Homo sapiens: one gene and its partners. The protein of the gene in region 2 interacts with the protein of the main gene of each other region in a biochemical or structural test. Each region holds a gene or a part of one and is shown on either strand. Other genes may lie near its edges. The genes, in order: VAPA, KCNB1 and PTPRE.

Region 1 (7,109 bases), on a different chromosome or scaffold from region 2:
AAATACAAATATATAATTATACACAGCATAGCTATAAAAAGTTTATCAAAATGTTAACAGAGGTTATTTTGTGAGATTGAGTAATTTTTATTGGCTTTATAATATCTCCCATCCAAGTACTAACCAGACCCTGCTAGCTTCCGAGATCAGACGAGATGGGGCGCGTTCAGGGTGGTATGGCCATAGACAGCTTTATAATATCTATACTTTTTCCATTTTCTAATTTAGCACTGATTTTATATAACAAGGGACTTTTAAACATGTACCCATAGTAGCTTAATTTGCTTATAAATCCTCTTACTTGTAAAATCCTGGAAGAAAAAACTGAAAAAATTCAGAACCACAGATTTTTTGGGGATCTGTTGTTAGTGAGGTTTTTCTCAGTGGGAACAGTACTCAGAAAACAAGACCAAGAGATTCTGGCCCTACAGGCTTTAAAAAGTAAAATTTTTTCACAGGAAAAACTAAACAGGAAACACTGTATGATTTAAAGGCACCCTATGTCTTTAAAGTATGACAGTCACTCCATGTCATATTATTCAAGAATTAAAATTATATACATATTCATATACACTTCACACATATACACACATACATGAAACATACAGCTACAAAAGAGCTGTCAAAACATAGGCCCATGAGAAATTTGTCAAGTTATACTATAAACATACGTTTAAAAGTCCTCTCATAGCAACAATTCTTTTTTAATTAACATCCCTACTTTTTAACGGTAATTCAATCTAATCATTTCCTTAAAATGCTAAAAGTTTAAAAGTCCTCTCATAGCAACAATTCTTTTTTAATTAACATCCCTACTTTTTAACGGTAATTCAATCTAATCATTTCCTTAAAAAGCTAAAAGATACGTAACTAAACTTCTCACTCCTTTAAATCTGAATTTTCAGAACAGTATCAAACATTAGTGATAACTAGTTATAAAGAACATCCAAACACCAGAGAAAAGCAGCTAAGCATGCTATGGTATATTAATGATGCATAAGTCAGCAAAAATGATACGGAGGTTTCTTTTATAAGCATTGAAGACACTAGTTTAGACTTTTTATAAAGTGAAATATGTGTTACAGAATAACAATTACAAAGTGAAATATGTATAACAGATTACAGAATTTATTTTTTATAAAGTGAAATGTTAAAGAATAATGTGTTACAAATATGGCTTCAGAAAATATCAAATTCAATCTCATTTAAGCAAAGAATATTTTATTATTAAAAAAACCCATACTGAAGAGTTCATCATAAAGATGTAAGCAATTCAATGGCACAGGAAATGAAGTATAACTGGCATCACAGGAAGAGGCTGTATTCAAGAGAAACTAATTCCTGGGATCAAAAGACCTCTCTGCCTACGTTTCTCTGCCTTTTTTCTCTCAATTAGTTGCTTCTGCTTGCCACTGGTCCAAATTAGCCACTGTTTTGTCTCCCAGTCCATATGACCTTGAAGGTCTGAAACCTATAACCATCTATTTATAGTTGTGTTTCAAGGTGAGCCATCAAAATTTTGACTGGTCAGTCACCAGCATATATATTGGCTGGCCTTGAATCTAGATTATAAACAGCCTCTTCCTGTGAGACCAGGTATACCTGATTTCCTATGCCATTGAGATTGCTCATTAATAAACTCTTAAGTGTGATTTTGTTCTTTGTAATAGACTAAATATTAGAGGATATCAAAGAATTACTGTTAATGTTATTACGTGTTAACAGTATCATGATTATGCAAAGAAAATGTCCTTTTTTGGTTATAAATGCAAACTCAAGTATCTAGGGATGAAATGTTATGCTATCATTCAGGATTTGTTTTAAAAATACTGAGGCAGGCCAGGTATGGTAGCTCATGCCTGTAATTCCAGCACTTTGGGAGGCTGAGGCAGGAGGATCGCTTGAGGCCAGGAGTTCAAGATCTGGCTGGGCAAAATAGCAAGACTGTCTCTACAAAAAATAAAACATATAATAATTAGCTGGGCACAGTGGCATGCACCTGTAGTCCTAGTTACTCAGAAGGATCGCTTGGGCCCTGGAGTTCAAGGCTGCAGTGAGCTATAACAGCACCACTGCACTTCAGTCTGGTGTCAGAGTGAGACCGCTGCAAAAAAATACAAACATGGAGGCAAACAAAAATATATAAATAAACACGTATGATTATAGTAAAATGTCAATTATTAAATTTATATTTAAATTTAATTTACTAAATTAACGCATACTGAGGTTCATATTATAAGGTGCTCATGTTTGAAAGTTTTCAAACGTTTAAAACTTACTAATTTAAAACTAATTTGAGTCACATTTCAGTTATAAAATGAATTAAACCAGTAAACAAGCATTTGCAAGTTAACAGTCCTCTCGCACATTTAATTTTTTTCCAAAACTAACTTTATGATCAAAAGAGAGCAAGATCCATCCTGTATCAACTTCCACCTCTGAAAGGCAAATAAGATTTCACTAAATGGTCAGTAAAGGTAAGATAAAAAGAAACTATGTTGAGATGATGCATATGTCAATTTGCTTCACTATAGTAACCATTTTACTATCTATATGTATCCCATAACATCATGTTATATGTATACCTCAAATATACACAATGAAATCTTTTTAAAGGATTAAAAGTATAGTTTTCCCTATTCTTTATATGCATTTTTCTGCTTCACAGAAAAATAGCATTTTCTTTTTGTACTCAATTGTCATATATTCACACAAACTTTTAAAGACAGAACACCCAAGAAATCACCTAGTCCTAACCTCTTACTTTACAAATGAAAAAAACACAAACATCAAACAACCTACCTTTAGGGTTAGTCAGCTCTTTACAAAATAGCCTACCACCCCTTTTCTGGAAGTACAAAATTTTGAAAGCACTATTACCTGCAAAAGCAGGTGAAAACTCCAACTGAGTCAAGATCCAAGACCAAAAAATAAAAATTACTGGAGAAATCATCTGAGTCTTATTAATTCAATCAACACTTACTGGGCAATCATTTTATGATGCCAGAACTTGTTACTACAAACATTAACAGGTATATACTCAGAGTTCATAGTATAGTTTGGGAGGGGAGAATATGTAAGCCTAACTACTATCTAATGTGAAAGTACTGTTATTACAGGTAAGCACAAGCTTCAACAGTGGCATGAAGGCTCTGACCAACTTGGACTGGTAGAGTATCAACGACTTCTCAAGAGGAAGTGATTCTTGAAATAAGAGGCTGCCTGACAGACGTGAGGGAGGACAATATTCTAAGCAGAGCCTGTGCAAAGCATTGCAGTGGCCTGGAGTGTTTGGGAAAATGGTTTCATATAGCCAAAGTTATGGACAGAAGAAAAAGAATAGACACTGAGGCTGGAGAGTTAGGCAGTGGATTTTGGATTTTTCAAGTACATAGTAAGAAAACATTTAGAGTTCTTCAATCAAGGGACTAACAGTAACAGCCTCCTTTTTCCAAAGCGTAGTTCCAGCAGCAGTGTGGAGGACAGGGTAAAGAGCTGACAATAAAGGAGGCTGGGCACAGTGGCTCACGCCTGTCATCCCAACACTTTGGGAGGCAGAGGCAGGTGGATCACTTGAGGTCAGGGAGACCAGCCTGGCCCACAGGGCAAAACCCCGTCTCTACTAAAAATACAAAAATTAGCCAGGCATGGTGGTGCACGCCTGTAATCCCAGCTACTTGGGAGGCTGAGGCAGGAGCATCGCTTGAACTCGGGAGGCAGAGGTTGCAGTGAGCCGAGATAGCGCCACTGCACACCACCATGGGTGACAAAGCGAGACTCCATCTCAAGAAAAAAATGAAAGAAAGAAAGAAAAGAAAAGGAGATGTCTGCTGACTAGTAAATATAAAAGGACCTGAAGTAAGGAAATTATCCAAAGCCCAGACCTTTTCTTAAGTAACACACCCATTTAACCAAATCCACCTTCATGTTAATATCCTGAAAGACCTAAACATATCTACCATACGTCCTCCTCCTCCATCTCTCTCACACACCCCCAAATAAGATGCATTTCGTCCTCATCCAGACATCCACCGTTTCTCAAATAGCACCACCATTTCCCCAGTTATATAAGCAGAAATCTCAGACATTCATACCCTTTTCTCTCAGTGCACATAGAGACCACCAAGTCTCACAGATTCAACCTAACTTTTCATCACCTCCAATACCATGACCTCAGTCCAAGGGGTCACCACTTGCCAGTACTGCTGCAGCCGCCTAATTCATCTCTTTCTCCCCTCTAGTATAATTTTACATTGCTACCAGAATTATTTTTAAATGCAAATGTGATGTTATTCGATTCCCTCCATCTTTACTGCTCCTCCCCTCACTTAAAAACCCTAGTGGCTCAGGATAAAAACAAAACTCCTAACTTGACCTACTAAACCAGCACTACATTCATCTTGACTATTTTCACCACTGCCACGCCGACCTCTTTCAGTATGGTAAATGTTTCACAGTCCCTCCTGCTACCGGATATTTGAACATGCATTTTCCTTTCTTCTTCACCAGGATAACTTTTACTCATTGTTGGAATCTTAGTTCAACTGTGACAGCCTGATCGAAGACCCTTATTTTACATTCTCGTAGCACTATATAGCTCTTCAGGGGTACACTTTATTCTTCTGATTATTTTATTAGTATCTATCTCTCTTGTTAGAACTGCCCCATGAAAACATGGCTTGTGTTTCACTCACAACTGTAGTTCCAATATTTATTCATCATACCTGACATGTAGCAGATACTCAAATCTAATCAAATTAGATCCATAATTGAATGAATTTTAAAAATAAATGAATTTGGAAGTAGAAACACATTGAAGTGGACAAAGGGATTATGTCAAAAATAGAAACACAGATTTTAATTATTAGATATGCATATTGTTTCTGGTGTGAGTAATCATGATGCCACTAAAAAATAAAAATAAAGCCAAGTGCAATGGCTCAGGCCTGTAATCCCAGCACTTTAGGAGGCCAAGGCAGGAGGATCACGCAAGGTCAGGAGTTCGAGATCAGCCTGGGCAACACAGCGGCACCCCCATATGTACGTAAAAAATTAGCTGGGCATGGTAGCATGCACCTATAGTCCTAGCTATTCAGGAGGATCACTTGAGCCCAGGAGGTCACGGCTGCAGTGAGCCAAGAACGTGCATGCCACTGCACTCCAGGTTGAGCAACTGAGCAAGACCCCATCTCAAAAATAAAAATAAAAAATATGGGAAGAAGAGTAGGCATGGGTAGTAAAAATTTTGAGATATTTTGAGTTTAGAATATCATATCTGTGCAATATTCAAATCTAAATAGTGAATAAGTTGTTTGAGTATGTGCTCTTGACTGACGGTAAAATGTGAATTAAAACAGACTTGGGGGTGTAGCAATACCTGCAGAGAGCAAGGAAGATAAAGAGAAAACCTCAAAACAATGAAATGAACAAAGAAAGTTCACAGAGTGAGATAAATGAAACCAAATCAGAATCTCAGAAACATGAGCATTTGAGGAAAATGCCACAAATAAGACAATAAATGGAGCAAATAAGAAAATTAGAAGACAATGCTGTTATAGAAGCCAGAAGAATTGAGGGTTTTTTTTAGAGAAACTGTCGGTACTGTCAAGAGCCAGGGGGAGGTCAAGTAAGATAAAAACTGGAAATGATTAAGTTAGCAATAAGTAGTGAGAGGATAAAAGTACCGTGGACTAAGGAGAGAATAAAAGGTGAGTAACTGGAAAAACAGTGAATATGGACTATTTTTCCAAAAAGTCTGAATGCAAAGGAAATGAAGGACAGGGAGAGACACATACTAGAAAGAGTTATGGTCAAAGAAGTACATGTCTGCTCATTTGTTTTTAAAATCAAAGACTCTGGTGTATTTATATGTTAAAACAATGCAGCCAGTGATTGAAAACCAGCAGGAAAACATCTCATGGAACATGGTCTGAGTCATAAGGAATTTTACCTTAGCCAGCAAAAATAGAGGAACAAAGAACCTTGGGTATGAGCAGGGTTTTTCTTTCTCAGGGAAGAAAGTATGGATGTGTACAGACTAACAGGTGTTACAAGAGGAAGGCACATCATGGAAGAGATGGTATGTCTTACTGAAAAAAAAAAATCTGACTTTTATTCTGTGAGCAATTGAGAGTTACCTAAAAACTAAGGAATGGAGTAATATATGATTAAAGATTACATTCATGTCTTTAGAGCCCCAGGCGTTTTGTATAGCCACTGGGAAACATGAAGAGCCGACTGGAAACACCTAAAAATGTGCTAAATATCCATCCAGAGGAGTATTCTCTAATTTCCCCCCCGCCCCGTGCTGCTTCTATGCAGATGCACTAGCTGATGTTAACACCATACGTCCCTCGATCCCTCAGAGAGCTTAATTTTCTTTGTTGATTTATTGTTATCGGCCACTCTCAACATAAGGATTTTGGTTTATTTTCGTCTCTCTCTGATCATTAAGAATATATTTGAAATTTATTTTAGCATTTTATAAACTTTCTTCTTCAAACTTTTCTACAAAACTGCTAATAGGGGTCAGGTGCGGTGGCTCACGCCTGTAATCCCAGCACTTTGGGAGGCCAAGGCAGGCGGATCACCTGAGGTCAGAAGTTCGAGGCCAGCCTGGCAAAATCCCGTCTCTACAAAAAATTCAAAATTAGCTGGGCATGGTAGTGCATGCCTGTAGTTCCAGCTACTCTGGAGACTGAGGCAGGAGAATTGCTTGAACCCGGGAGGCAGAGACTGCAATGAGCCGAGATCGAGCCACTGCAACAGAGCAAGACTCCGTCTCAAAAAATAAAAAAATTTAAAAAAACTGCTAATAGGTAGAAAAATAAAATGTGTAATACATTATAAATGGAATTTTATCATGTAAAAAATTTTAAAGACAAAAAAAATCTTTCACATAAAATACCAAGTTTCAAATCTGAAATCTAGGTAAAATTACTTCCAAGGTTTAAACAGAATTTGAAGTAAAGCAGCGTCTACTTCTTTTTCTTTACTAACACAAGTGATCTACTTCAGAATTCATTACATCGTAAATGCACTTTTATATGTTAACGACTGTATAAAACAAACTTTTTTTTAAATACTGAGGTATACAGAAAAATGTACTG
Region 2 (7,361 bases):
CTGCCTGGGCCTTGTATGCCAGGATGAAAAGTCTGAATTTTATTTTGAGTGTGATGGGAAACTTCTGGAGGATTTTAAGCAGATGAATAATGTGATCCAATTTACATTTTGAAAAGCTCACTTTGGCTGCTATGTGGGGAATGGATTGCAGGGGCAAAAGTGGAAGCCGGGAGACTGGGGAGGAGGCTGCGGCACTTGATCATTATAGAAAGAACACTCGGTTTGGATTTCTGGCTACTCCTGACTGCCTGTGGTGTGACCTTAGGCAAGTTACTTAACCTCTTTCAGCCTCACTGTTTGCGAAAGGTGGGATAATAACAGAGCTGCGTTGTTACACTCCATACACAGTAGGTGTTTGATCATTGGCAGCCAGGATTTCTATTCTGAGGGCCAGTGAGCCTGCCTCCCTCCCCATTTCAGCTCTGGCTACAGAAAATCCTAGATGGTCCATCTGCCAGGAATGTGAGCTGGCAGCCCCAGACTGGGATCATGGAGAGGTCACAAGGCTGTCCCTGCTAGCGGATTAACCCAAGGGAGAGGAGAGGTTCTTTATTCCCAAACAGCACCTCTTGCAAGCCCCGGTGCTTGGGTCTTGCTGCCAGACCAAAACATGGCCCTGTGCCTGCTTCTTCTCTGGGAGGGCAAATTGTCCAGTTCCCTGTACCTTGTTCTCATGTCTTAGGGATGGGACAGGGAGGGAGAGTCACATTTGGGCCTAAATGGGATGTGCAGTGGGAGAACCTGTGTCATGCCTGGAAATAGCAAAATAAGTCTGTTGATCCTAAGCTGATTAAGGGTGAGTGACTCTGTCTTAGGAGGAGGCTTTTTGGACACAAAATTGGGGGCGGGATTATGGAGAGAGACAGCCCACAGCCTCAGAGGAGGAAGCCAGGCCCAGGAGCCTCTACATCCTTGTTAGGGCCAACAGGGAAACGAAAAAAACACGTGGGGGCTCCCTCCACCCTCTTACCAGCCACCCCTTCTCCATCCACTCTCAGGGGCCTCTCCTTGGGTGGCTAGATCTGGAGGAAGGACCCCACGGAGTCTCCCTTCAGACTGGGACCTGCAGGTGGGCCTTCAGTGAGAACTGAGCCGGAGACCCCACAATGAAAGGCTGGGCTGGACAGGAGTCAGCCCTAGCTAGTAAGATATGGCTGGATATTTAGGCTTCCTCCTCTCCTCTTTCTTTTACCACAAATCTACTTACCTGACCCCTTTTTTTAGGCCCCACACTCAGTTACATTCTCCCCATGTTTCCCAAGTTGGTCTTGCTGGATTTCAACATCAACATCTCTCTTTTCTGGGTTCTCCGTGAACCTCACAGAACCTCTTTTATAGCCTTGCACACACTGTTTTGTCATTTGCTCCCAGCACCCAGCACTTCGGGCACATGAAGACAGGCCCCATCTTTCCCAGGCAACCCCAAATCCCAGCCTGACGTAGAGAAGTTGCTGATCAACCAGTGCCCTCCTGCCCTGCCTTGGCTCCCACCCCAAGCCTTCCTCAGTCCCCTACAGCCCCTGCCATTACCCAGCAGCACCAAAGACTCTCTGGCCCACTCTTTGTGTTCAAACTCATTCCTGCCTCCTCCTCCTCCTCCTCCTTTATTTTTCACATTGCCTCATTTTTCTCTCCTATTTTGAAATTTACATCTTGTTCCAAGAGCTGAAACATCTTTACAAGCTGCACCAAACCATTCTGGAAATAAACTCACCAAATAAATAAGTAACCAGGGGGTGACCCCTCACCCGCAAGCATCCACAACCAACTGCATGTGTCGTGTGGGTCCACACCCACCCCTCGGGGTCCCTTCTTACTTATGTTTAAACTATCTGACAGTATCTCAATGTCCTGTAAGCATGTCTGTAAGCTGCTTTTTTCCCTTGCTGGGGCAGAGTGAGGTTATAAATATGGAGATATTAAAATCACAGGGTGATCCAATCCAGCCTAGGTCTGGGACTTCACAGGGAAGCAAACCCTACTCCACCCCAGCAAGCCACTGTTGTCTCTCTGTGCTCTCTCTCTTATTCGTCAGTGTCCATCTTCTTGCTGTGGCTTTTTATGGGTCCCTGTGAAACCTCTCCAACCAAGTAGGGGTATAACGTCTTGGATAATAAAAAGATGGAGTGACCAGTGCCACATGGGAAAAGTCTGAGGGGGTTGGTCCTCACCTCTGGGGACTCAGTCCTAGCCCCTCCCCATTACTAATCTTCATCGTTGGGAACAAAGCCAGAGTCCTCCAGCAGTGGTCCTCAATATGGGGATGCAAGCAGATCCCCCCAGACCAGCAGCCCCCAGATCCCAGACTCACCTTGGCAGCCACAGAGGAATTGGGCTTCTCCAGTAGGTCCCAGAGTTTTTTCCTCTTCTCTGCGCAGCACGTGTTATCGAACTCCTCGCCTTCCCGCTCCCGTAGGGTCTCGGCCTCACGCTTGAGCTCCTCGTTCATCTGCTCTTTCTTCTGGTGGTAGCGGGCCTGGCAGCAGGACTCCAGGTAGATCTCGTCGATGCCCCAGTAGTCGAGCTCTTGGCTGAAGCTGAGCGCGCACATCTCCTCCATCATGTGCAGTCGCCCAGTGCGGTAGAAGTTGAGGATGGAGGTGAAGGCGCCCGGGTGGCGGTCAAAGAAGTACTCGTTGTCGTCGAGGCTGTAGTCATCGCACACCTCGAGCAGCGAGTCGTGCGTGTTGCAGTCGCGGAGCTTGCCCAGCCGCGTGCGGGGCAGGCGGTCCAGGGTACGCCAGAGTACCTCGTGCGCCAGCCCCCCGACGTTGAGGCGGACCCGCCGAGAGCACGCCTTGCTGCGCACGATCTCCATGGGCTCGGGCGGCAGCGAGCTGGTGGAGCGGGAGCCATGCTTCGTCATGCCCGCCGGCATCGCTGATCCGGCCGCCCCCGCCCCCCCTGCCCCCCCAGGCCGCTGTCACTCGACGGCAAGGCCCGCTGCTGCGGGGGAGGGGGGCAGGGAGCGCTGTGGGCTGCTGGGGGTGCAGGGGGCCCCGCGGGCGCGCGTCACGGCCGTCTTCTCACCTCCATCCCGACGGCTGCGAGGCAGAAAGCGAAAGCGGACGCGGGTCAGCAAACGGGGAGCTGGGCATGCTGTCCCCCCGCCCCCCACCTCTCCACCAGGCTCCCAGCCGGCCTTGACCTTCCCCCGCGCTTAAGCGGCTCAGTGGGGTAGGACGGATGGTCGCTGTCCCTCCCGCCGGTGCTGAAGTCCGCCGCACCCCATGGATGGAGGGAGGGGCCGCCCCTCGGGGCGGGGAGAGGGCCCCAAGAGATGCCCCTGGAGCCCGGGAGGCCCCACCCTGGGCTTCTGCGGCCCAGGCGCGACCCAGCCGCCCGGGGCGCTGTCCGCCCCTTAGAGTGCTGAAACTCTCTTCATTATGGGTCTCCCGATCGAGTCCCGAACCTGGCCCCGCCATGGGGAGAGAGGGGGAGCTGCATGAAAACTTTCTTTCTTTATCTTTTTCTTTCTTTCTTCTTCTTCTTTCCTTCTTTTTTTTTTTTTTAACGAGTTCTCTTCTTTTCCTTCCCCTTCTCGAGATAATCAAGATTTTGGGGGTGGGGGAATGGCAGCGGGCTTTTTTCCAAATCTTAAAAGATTTGGGGGAATTCCGGGGGTTCCAGGTGCCCACCTGTCCGAGGTCACAACAGACGGGGTGTGCACAACAGCCCCTCTGTCCTGGAGCGACCCCTCTTCCCAAACACTGGAGCATCTCCTGAGATTGCTCCAGCGACAAGGTGAGCCGCGAGGAGGAAAAGCCCGCTCTCGCCTCTCCCTCTGAGCCCCCAACCCTACCGCAGGAGGGGCGGGCAGAGTCCTCGGGATCCGCCTGCTCCGTCCTCCCCTCGCTCCTTCCCCGCCCCCTTCTCCTCCTTCTCCTCCCCCTCCTCTTCCTTCTCCCCCTCCTCCTCCTCTTCCTCCTCCTCCTCCTCCTCCTCCTACTCCTCCTCCTCGTTCCTCTCCCGCGATGGCTTTTTATAACTCCGGGTTCTGCGCCTTTCCCCGGGCTTGGAAGGGAAGGGGTGGGGGAGGTGGGAGGCGGGGAAATGAGCTAAATTTTCTGGCCTTTTCAAAAGGTGCCATCCTCCTACCGCGCACTAGTGATTTCGGGGGGTTCCCCTGAGCACCCCCTGCATGTAGGGCTCACGCCTTAGCCCCAGAATGGGGATTGCGCGTCCCCTCAGGCCTCAGCCCTTGCCTGCCTCCCACCCCGCTCCCCTCCAGCCTGGAGCTGCGGAGCCCGAGCAGACCAACAGGCCGAGCTGCGGCAGGCAAACCCCCTGTCCGTGTCCCCATGCACCCCCACGGAAGGCCGTACGCCCCAACACTCACCCCCAGGGCGGCCGCCTCCTGGGGCCAGGGACCGCGCATCGTCCCGGCCGCCCGGGCGCCCCCGCCCGTGGGCAGCGGCGGTCCCGGGGCCGGGCTGAGCCGGGCCTACCCCGGCCGGGCAGGCAACTCGCCCGGGCTGCAGGCGCCGCGGGGCCGGGGCGCGCTCTCCGAGGCGGGGGGCGCCGGCGGGCGCCGGGGGCGCGGGGGCAGGACCGCGGCCGCGCGGCACCTCCTCCACCTCCTCCTCCTCCTGCTCCCGCGGCGGCGGCGGCGGCGGCTGCCTGGGCGAGATCAACAAGTCGGGGCTGAGCTTCGGCTCCGCGCTCGCTGCTATTCTGTCCCGCACTTCGGAGCGCCCGGAGCCGGGCACCAAGGCAGGACGGCGCCACCTGCGGGTCGGAAGCGAGCGCGGCTTAACTCCTGCCTGCCCGGCCCAGCCTGCCGGGGAGGCCGGGGGCGGGCTCCGGGATCGGGCCAAGGAGACGCGCGTGGCCGTGCATCCCTCTCCACCCAGGCCACCTGCACAGCTGGCCTCGCGATCCCGCCTTCCTTCGTCCCGTCAACAACGTGTGTTGAACGCCTCCTGTGCGCGAGCCGCGGTGCAGGGCACGGTGACAGGCGTCTGAGATACAGCTGTGAATCAAACACAAACATCCGGCCCTCGTGGAGCTGGTTGGAAACAGATCATAAACAAAAAAGCGAAAGGATATATGAGGCGGTGACAAGCGCTGGGGGAAATAATGAAACAGGAGGAAGGGTCAGAGGGTGGGAGGGGGCAGATCGGAACTGTAAATAGCCCTTGCTTTCATGAGCTTCCATTCTAGATTTTAGCGGGGGGTCGGGGGTGGGGGACGGAGGCGGACAATGAATACATCAGTACATATGCAATGTGGCAGGTGGTGATAACCGCTAAGAAGAAAAATAAAGCGAGGTATGGGGAAGAGAGGGTGAAGAGTGAGCTGGTTTATATAGTCTGGTGATTCATTCATTCATTCATTCATTCATTTATTCATGTTAAGTTGGACATCTGGTTATTGACAGCTTCCTATGTGCAAGCAGAATGCCAGGCTCCGTGAAGGGAAAGTCTTCCCCCTGGAGCTCCCCATCCAGTGGGGGAGGCAAAACCCATCACATAATCCCAGAAATGAAAACTGGAGGAGGTACCTGGAGAGGCAGGCAAGGGTTCTCTAAGGATGCCACAGATGGGCCTTGTGTTTACTCATTTATTCTTTCAAATATTCATTTACTGCATGATAAGTAAATAGGTGTCAGCGGCCGGGCACAGTGGCTCATGCCTGTAATCTCAGCACTTTGGGAGACTGAGGCGGGAGGATGGCTTGAGCCCAGGAGTTGGAGACCAGCCTGGGCAACATAGTGAGACCCATCTCTGCCAAAAAATAAAAAATTAGCTGGGCATGGTGCTGCTTACCTGTGGTCTCAGCTACTCAGGAGGCTGAGGCAGGAGGATCACTTGAGCCCAGGAGGTCAAAGCCACTATAAGCTGTGATTGCACCTCTGCATTTCAGCCTGGATAACAAAGTGAGACCCTGTTGCAAAAAAAAAAAAAGAAAAAAAAAAGTGCCGGGGATGGGTACAGCAGTGAGCTCCCCTGCCCTGGAGGACAAAAACTGAACAAGATACAGTGTTCCAACACAGGTTCCTCTCTGGCCCTTTTCTTCCTTTCTAAAATTAAGGGGTTCATTTCCATAATTTCCATAGAGTTGCACATAATATTATTATATATTTTTTACTTGTCCACTTATCATCTCCACCATCATGACCCTTGTCCAAGGTACCATCGTCTTGTCTCCCTGCAACCTCCCTGCAACTTGGCTCCCATCTTGGCCTCATCCCTGGCTCCCATGCCTGGCTCCCATCTTGGCCTCCTACAGTTCATTCTCCCCATGGCCACCAAAACAACTGCTACATTTCATGGACCATGAAATGTTGGACCATGTTTCTCATCTGCTTAAAACCTTCCCAAGACTTTCCCTTGCTTTAGACTAAAACCTAAACTTCTGGCCTATTGCCCTAATTCAGCCCGCCCCCCTTTCTGAGCTTGTAGACCAGTGGAGGAAGACAGGTAACTAAAAAAGTAAATTTTTAAAGAGAGAGTTTCAGGCTACAGTGATTGTTATAAAGGAAATGGAACATCATGATGGGGTGGAAAAAGAGAGACCAAGCTGCTAGTGTTACACAGGGTGGTCAGGAAGGGTGTCTCAGAGGAGATTAATAGAGATTGAAAGATAAGAAGGGACTAGCCATGGGGAGAATGAGGGAAATGCATTCCAGGTGGAGGAAACAGCAAGTGCAAATGACCTGGGGTGTGAGAGACAGTGAACAATCACATTCCCTCCTGCTTCAGTCTGGTGTTCCTAGGGTCAGAAAGGGTTCTCAGCTGGCCCCTCTGTAAGCCTAATCTGTTGAAGGCAACTTTTCTCCAGAGATCTGGGCATTCCCACAGGAGGTTTCAGAAAGCAATAAATCCTTCCTGATGAGAGGGAAAAAATGACTCTATAATGGTGAAATTTCCAGGCATTACTGCAGGCATTACGGTGCCTTCCAGGTACAGCTAAAATAACACCTAGAAGTGCGGTTCTTCTCTACTCCATATAACCAAGGAGTGGAGATGCATGTTTGTTGGGCACCTACTACAAGTAGTCCTCTGAAGGTATAACATCCATCAGCTTCCACATCTGTAAATAAGAGATGAGGTTATTTATAGATGTGGAAGCTAAAGCTCCGAGAGAAGGTGTCTTGCCCAATATCTTGCTGGCAAGTGCTGGCACAACCAGATATGGGAATCTCTTGTTTGACTCCAAAATCAACGGGCTATCCAAATACCAGAGCAGCCTCTCTGCAAAGTCCTTTCTCCATCAGTTCATTTATTGATTAATGGAATCATTCCAGATGTTTACTGAGCATCTACTGTGTGCCTCAGCATGGGTGTTGGTGCTGGGAATTGAGGGTGAGTAATTTATATGGTCCCTGTCCTCGTGGAGCCACACACCTCTCTTGCCAA
Region 3 (7,109 bases), on a different chromosome or scaffold from region 2:
CACATGGTCATGTTGCCTATAAATCCAACCTGCTGAGTCGGTTTCCCCCGTCACCTCCATTCTGGCTTTCCACACACAGCCAGCAGGGGACCCCTTCTCAAACTCACAGCTGAGCATGCTGCTGGGCTCTGTGGGGCTGGCCAGGCCGCACAAAGGGGACACACCTGGAACCTGTGAGCCTCAGGATGGGGGGAGGGGTGTTAGGAAAGACTTGCTGAAACTATACAAATGACTGTGTGCACACATGCGTTTTTCTGGAGAATGAGTCCATAGTCTTCCCTAGAATCACAAAGGGGGTCATAATTTAAGACACGGTAAGAACTGCTGGTCCGTCACACAGAATCCAGACTCCTGGATGGTGTACAAATGTTTGGGTGATCCTTAAACTTTCCACCTTTTTGTCCCATCCCCTCTGTCCCTGGGCTCCAGCTCCATGCAGACACCTGCTCTTCCCCAGACAGGACACACCGCTTCCTACTGCCAGGCAAGCACATGGTAGCCCCTCTGTCTGGAATGCTCAATCCCTGTCAGCTGCCTAGGAAATGGCCCAGTAAACCAAGCCTGCTTGTATTAGTCTGTTTTCATACTGCTATAAAGAACTGCCTAAGACTGGGTAATTTATAAAGGAAAGAGGTTTAATTGACTCACAGTTCAGCATGGCTGGGGAGGCCTCAGGAAACTGACAATCATGGTGGAAGGGGAAGCAAGGCACCTTCTTCACAAGGCGACAGGAAGGAGAAGTGCACAGTGAAGTGCACAGTGAAGTGAAGGGGGAAGAGCCCCTTATAAAACCATCAGATCTCATGAGAACTCACTCACTATCATGAGAACAGCATGGGGGAAACCACCCTCATGATCTAATCACCTCCTACAAGGTCCCTCCCCCAACATGTGGGGATTACTATTTGGATTACAATTCAAGATGAGATTTGGGTGGGGACACAGAGCCAGACCACGTCACTGCTCTACCTGGGGAGGCCCTTCCATGTCTCCCCTCCTCCACAGGAGCATCCAGCATCACATTTAACACTCCCTGGAAGTGAGTTCTGTCTTCCTGTGGACCTGGAGCATCCACAGGATGTCACAAGCCATCGTGCCTTTTTTTTTTTTTTTCCCTGTAACTCCAGCGCTAAGCACAGTGCTTGTACGTACGGATGCTCCTGGGCTTACAGTGAGGTCATATCCTGATGAACCCCTTGTAAATAGAATATATCATAAGTTTAAAATGTACCCAATGCCCAATAAACCCATTGTAAGGTTGAGAAACTATAATAAAACCATCATAAGTTATAGATCCTCTATATACTGTAGGTAGTCAATAAAGGTTTAATACTTCCATTTGTTCCTTCTAAATGATATTACAGACTCTTAAACACTATTTACATTTGATGAAAACCAAAAAATATCCTTTGAAAGAATGTTGTTGGCTAGCTAAGAATAGGCCTGGCTTGGCACAACACAGTACAAAATTATTAAATTTCTGGCTCTTGCATTTTTATATTACTTTGGGTCCAAATCTGGACTTTGCGCAAAAGAATTTAAATGGACAGACTGATAACATCTCCAGTAGATGACTGAACTTTAGCTGATGTTTGCAACCTTGGCAAAAAGTAATTTATTGAATTACTGAAGCACTGAACGAAGGGCTGCTATGAGCTTAGGAAAAGAGAGCGCTTAGTCAACAGCAGTTCAAAATTAAGGACGAGGTTACTGGTTCAGAGTACTTTTTTGACCAGTACTTAAATGTCCAACTGTTTATGAAACTAAGGTTGCTTTCAGAAAGAGGAAAACCATACTGGAAAAAAAGTGTTAATCACAATGAAAAATTTTACTAGTAACAATGTAAGTTTTGGGATGATTTGAAATAATGTGGCTGGAAACAGAAGTTTCTTTTTTTGATAAGTAGACTTCCTAGTGCAACTAGGATTGTACAGGAGTTTTATTTTTACATATTTAAGATGCTAAAATGTGTTATTCTCTTTGGAAGAGCATTTACATGCTTTCTATTCATTAAAGTAAGTACCGGAAGGCAACGTTTTGTTGGCCTGGATTGAGTTACTATAAATCCTCGAATTTAATAAAAATCCACAATATTCAGGCTTTTTATTAATTCATACTGATTTCCTCCCCAGGAATTTTAAGAGAGCTTCTGCTTCAGAGATTCAGAGTGTTTGGGTCTGAATATTAGCTCCACGCCCTGACATGAGGATATGCCACCCCTGTGCTCTCTGAAATTGTCCTGGGTCAATCCTTGGTCCTTATCTCGTGCCCAGCAAGCAGGGCTCACATTCCAGGTTGAAAGGGAACTTCCAGGTCTCCTCGGTTGACAAGATTGGAAGATAAAAGCTCACCATCTGAGAAGTGCTTTCTCTCCTACGTCTAGAACAGTGGGAAAGCGCCCTGAAGAGAGGAAGGATTTGGAAAGAAACACCGACATCTGTAGGAAATATTCTGTGCTGAAAACCAACCTGTTAGTTGAATTCACTAGCAGGTCTCTCTGGAATCAAGAAAACAAGCTGGAGAATTCCATAGGGAGGATTTACTTTGTCTTCCCCAGAGGAGGCTGGAGGCCTTCCCACCTCCAAAGATCCATCCCATGTTACCTCAGTAACAACCTAGCCTTTTTCTGAAAGTGTGTTTTATAACAAGTGGATGGGGTTAGAAGAGTTAAGAGTAGAGCCTATCCTGGGAAGTATGATAGTGTCAGAAAAACAGGCCACCGGTGTCCGCAAAGCCTGTATTTCCACCTGTGCTGTGTGTGTCAGTCTGTTCTTGCATTGCAATAAAGGAATACCTGACGCTGGGTAATTTATAAGGAAATGAGGTTTAATTGGCTGATGGTTCTGCAGGCTGTGCACAAAGCATAATGCTGGCACCTGCTTCAGGTGAGGCTCAGGAAGCTTCCAATCAAGGCAGAGGGAGGGAGCCAGCATGCCACACAGTGAGAGTGGGAACAAGAGAGAGAGTGGGTGGGGGGTGCCACATTCTTTAAAATGACCAGATATCATGTGAACTAGCTGAGCAAGAACTCACTCATCACTAAAGGGATGGCGCTAGTAATCATGAGGTACCTGCCCCCATGATCCAATACCTCCTACCAGGCCCTACCTCCAACGCTGGGGACCACATTTCAACATGAGATTTGGAGGGGACACACAGCCAAACCATATACTGTGTTTCCAACAACAGAATAAAAAGCTTTACCCCATGACAAGGATTTCAGACCAAAAGGCTGGTGGATGAGGTGGGGGCAGGGTAAAGAGGAGAGTCCCAGGGTCGGACATCAAATTGTGGAAGTAGGTGTCCACCTCTGAGGCCAGCCTCTTAATAAACTGGAGAAGAAAGGAAGGCTGGAGCTCCCTAGAGTTTCACCGGGAACCTGCCTGGACAGGAGCTTCCATTTCGTCTGGGCTGTGCTTGGTGGGTGCGTTCCCGACCCTCAGAGCGCCCTTGTGCATGTTAGCCGAGGAGTCAGGGCCAAGCCTGTGGACAGCAAACCAGTCTGCACCGCAGACCTATGAAAGTCCTACTGTGGAGACACAGCCTGAAAAATGCCAATGCCAAGTCCTTCTGGAGTGAGAGGACGCCAAAATAAAAGGACTTAGTACAGAGGTCATTTAAAATAATACACTGTAATCAAGTAGCTATGTGATAGGACATTTAAAAATCTCAGTTGAGAAGAAAGATGGAACTAATTTTCTCTCTAGTACAAAACTGGTGACTAATGTTCAGCTGGAAATGTCCAAACAGATTTAGGGACATTAATAACCAAAAATTATGTTTGTGCATTTATTGAATAGGAATTAAATGACTTGCCTTGAGGACAAAGCGACTGTGGCAGAGGAGAAGTCAGGGCTCACATCATCTCAGGCCTTTGATTCCGGTCCCCTGGGCCCTTGCCTTGTGTGAGACCGCTGGCCCTTTGGTGATCATGGGGCCAGGCCTCTGCGTACCACCTCCACCGATCCCCGTGCAGCTGCCTTGGCGGCATCATGCTCCCCACCGTAAAGACTTGGGCTCACACTGGGCCAGGGGAAGTCCCTTGCCTTGTCCAGAGCCTCAGTCTCATGGGCCCCCATCTGATCCCAGTCATTCTGCTCCTAAGTCCTTTCCCTGAGCCCCAGGCTGTGTCACCTCCCTTGAAAATAAAGCCCCGTGGCTTCCACTTGCTGCTGGTATTCAGACAGAGTAAAATCATGGCAGGGAAGGCCTCCGCCACTTGGCCTCCTCCACTGCTACCTGGACAGGCTCCTACTCAGTTCTATTACCTTCATCCATCCATCTCTCCATGTCACATACATGCACAGAGTGAGCTCTGAGCTCCAGGCATTGTGGGACTGGCTGTCCATCCCTGGGAGCTGACGACAGAGTCATGTACCTGCCCAGGGCGCTCACACCAAATGCTATTGTTCCCATGCTAGCCCTTCCATTGGATCAAATGTAGTGTAGCTGGCACCCAGACCTGGGATCCAAACAAGTTTTCCTATCAATTCTTTACTCTCCACCCAACAAACACTAACATCAAAGCACCTGCCCAAAACACGTTTGGTTTTTAGCACATAACTAAGAATCTTTTTTTTTTCTTCAAACATTTCCCTACTCCCTGCTGGACTTTATATTTGTTTTTGGGAGAAAGATTTCTCTGCCCCTTTTGTTACTTGTTACAATATACATAATGGACCGGATTAACTGAACATTCTTGATTGCATTTGAAAGATATTTTTAAAAACAGATGCCCTTTTAAAATATTTTATCTGGCCCCTATTTCATTGGGAATCAATATAAAAGGATATGTTTATTTTTCTGAAATATATTGTTAAGAATTTGTATTTCTTAAGCTCAATCAAAGCCTCTGAAGTATTCATACAGTTGAAAGAAAGATGTGGGGCCCACATTTCTGGCTGTGAGCAGGGTGTTGTTAACAGTTCAAAGGCTGGGCACCACATCAATACTCCCCACATGGAACACCTGGACAGGGCAGACCATGATGGGTATGACTGGGAAAACAGCAGCCAGAGCCCAGGGAAGAAAAGGAGGCTGCCTTCATAATCCCCAAACCAGGGGTCTCCTAGCCCACATCCAGCAGCGAACGACCCCGCAACTGCTCATCTGTGTCTGCTCAAGGATTGGTAACATTCGACCAACTCTTATTGCCTCAGGTATGGCTGATCTAAAATCCCAGCCATCTAAAATATCATCCAGCACTCTGCTTTTGGTGAAAAAAAAAAATCCTAGTGACAAAATAATGAGAAGTTAATCCTCCAAAATAAACTCTTGATATGTCTAGGGCCAGTACCTAAAATTGGCAGCACGCTACATGTACCCACGGGCCTCTCCTCACTCTCTCTAGATTTGGTGTCCAGAGCAGAGAGACACGTGGCCCAAATGCTGAGCCAAGAAACAGGAGGCCTCCCTGCCTGGGATCCAGCCTTGTACGGAGTCAGCAGCCCTTCCTGCCCAGTGGTGGGGAAGGGGTGAAATCGGGCGGAAGTGCAGCAGCTGTGAGGGGCCCAGAGATGGCCCAGGACAGCCCCTTTCTTTGGATAAGCAAAGTGAAGTTCTGAGAGTTTCTAGGGTAGGCCACAGCTTCCTAGCTTTATGTTCTGGTCTAGAAGCTGCTCTCTTACCCTGATTCCAGACACCTGATTCTAGGCCACACTGCTTCTCAGGGGTGGGTTTCGTTTGCTTTTGCAGTGCCTCACACCCAGCCTGGTTTAATTCAGGCCACGAGCCTGGTTAATGTGCACAGCAAGTTGCATTTCTGCCTCATCGATCACTGGAGTCAATGGTGCATATTGAAGAATGAATGCCTTCATGGTAAGTGATAACATTATGGGATTAAAATACTTAATCACGCAAAATTTACATAATAATCATTTAGATTGCCATGCAAAAATTATCTGGCATGCCACACCACACTGATTTGACCTACTGATCTGGATGATGCACAAAAGGTATCTATCTATTTGTATGGTTTTTGGCTTGGTTCATGTATTCATTCAAACTTCATTGATTCTTTTTTTTTCCATGACAGGGTCTTTCTCTGTCAACCAGGCTGGAGTGCAGTTGTGTGAACATGGCTCACTGCAGCCCTGACCTCCCAGGCTCAGATGTTTCTCTCACCTCAGCCTCCTGAGTAGCTGGGACTACAGGTGTGCACCACCATGCCCATCTAATTTTTTTGTGTTTTTGGTACAGAGTTCCATCATGTTGCCTATGCCGGTCTGGAATTCCTGGCCTCAAGTGATCTGCGTGCTTCAGCCTCCCAAAGTGCTGGGATTACAGGTGTGAACCATTGCACCCGGCCTCAAACTTCACTGATTCTTACATGTGCAATGCACAGCATTAGATGTTGTAGGGGAAAGATAACCACAGTTTACTGCATACCAGCCAAGCGGCCTGTCAATTATATGTATCCTATGTCCCCCTCACAGCAGCAGCCCTGGGAAGTAGCGATGATTACTCCCATTCTAGAGAACACTGAAGCCTGCATTTTGAGTCATTTAGCCAAGGTCACACCAGAGTCAGAACTTGACTGACTGAACCCAAAGTACATGCTCTCAGAGACACACCCTCCACCCTTAAAGCACTGGCTGCCTAGTGGAGGAGATAAACTACTTGAGCAAGTGAACTGGAAATCAAAGTCAAGTCCAGTAAGTGCTTTAGGACAGGCAGAAATAACGTTCTATGGAACCAAGAGTAAGAGAGATTCCTCTCAGGTAGGGGAGCCAGGAAGGCTTTGTGGAGACTGAGACTTTTGAGGTGGGCCTTGAGGTATGGGTAGGAGTTTCTAAGATGGAAATAAAGGGGAAGGAGGCTGAGAGCAGGGAGCTGAGTCTTGGGATCTGGAAAGCTTTGGGAGCTTTATGGAAGACAAAGCCATTGGGTCAGTAGGAAGAAAGCCAAAAGAAAAACTAGAGATGTTCTTAGAACTGTAGTTTTCTTCCCAAGTGATATTCAAATATTAAGAAGGCCAGTCTTTACCCTAATGGATACATTCATTCCTGCTTTGGCAACAGAACTTCTGTGAGGGTGACTCAAATGTTATAAATGAAAAAGACTTGTCTAGCAAGGGAATACGGGGCAGCTTCGATCCTGTTCCCTCCCTG

The links.
Region 1: the proteins of KCNB1 (region 2) and VAPA interact in a test that uses a peptide from one of them, tested with the Homo sapiens proteins (one study listed by BioGRID).
Region 3: the proteins of KCNB1 (region 2) and PTPRE form a complex in vitro, tested with the Homo sapiens proteins (one study listed by BioGRID).

Annotation. Positions count from the first base shown.
Region 1 is NC_000018.10:9,916,998-9,924,106, reverse strand, and holds part of VAPA (vesicle-associated membrane protein-associated protein A), read right to left. Parts: intron 1-7,109. UniProt on the Homo sapiens protein: Endoplasmic reticulum (ER)-anchored protein that mediates the formation of contact sites between the ER and endosomes via interaction with FFAT motif-containing proteins such as STARD3 or WDR44.
Region 2 is NC_000020.11:49,479,603-49,486,963, forward strand, and holds the start of KCNB1 (potassium voltage-gated channel subfamily B member 1), read right to left. Parts: upstream 3,067-7,361; 5' UTR 2,879-3,066; coding exon 2,312-2,878; intron 1-2,311. UniProt on the Homo sapiens protein: Voltage-gated potassium channel that mediates transmembrane potassium transport in excitable membranes, primarily in the brain, but also in the pancreas and cardiovascular system.
Region 3 is NC_000010.11:127,910,000-127,917,108, reverse strand, and holds part of PTPRE (receptor-type tyrosine-protein phosphatase epsilon isoform 1 precursor), read right to left. Parts: intron 1-7,109. UniProt on the Homo sapiens protein: Isoform 1 plays a critical role in signaling transduction pathways and phosphoprotein network topology in red blood cells. May play a role in osteoclast formation and function.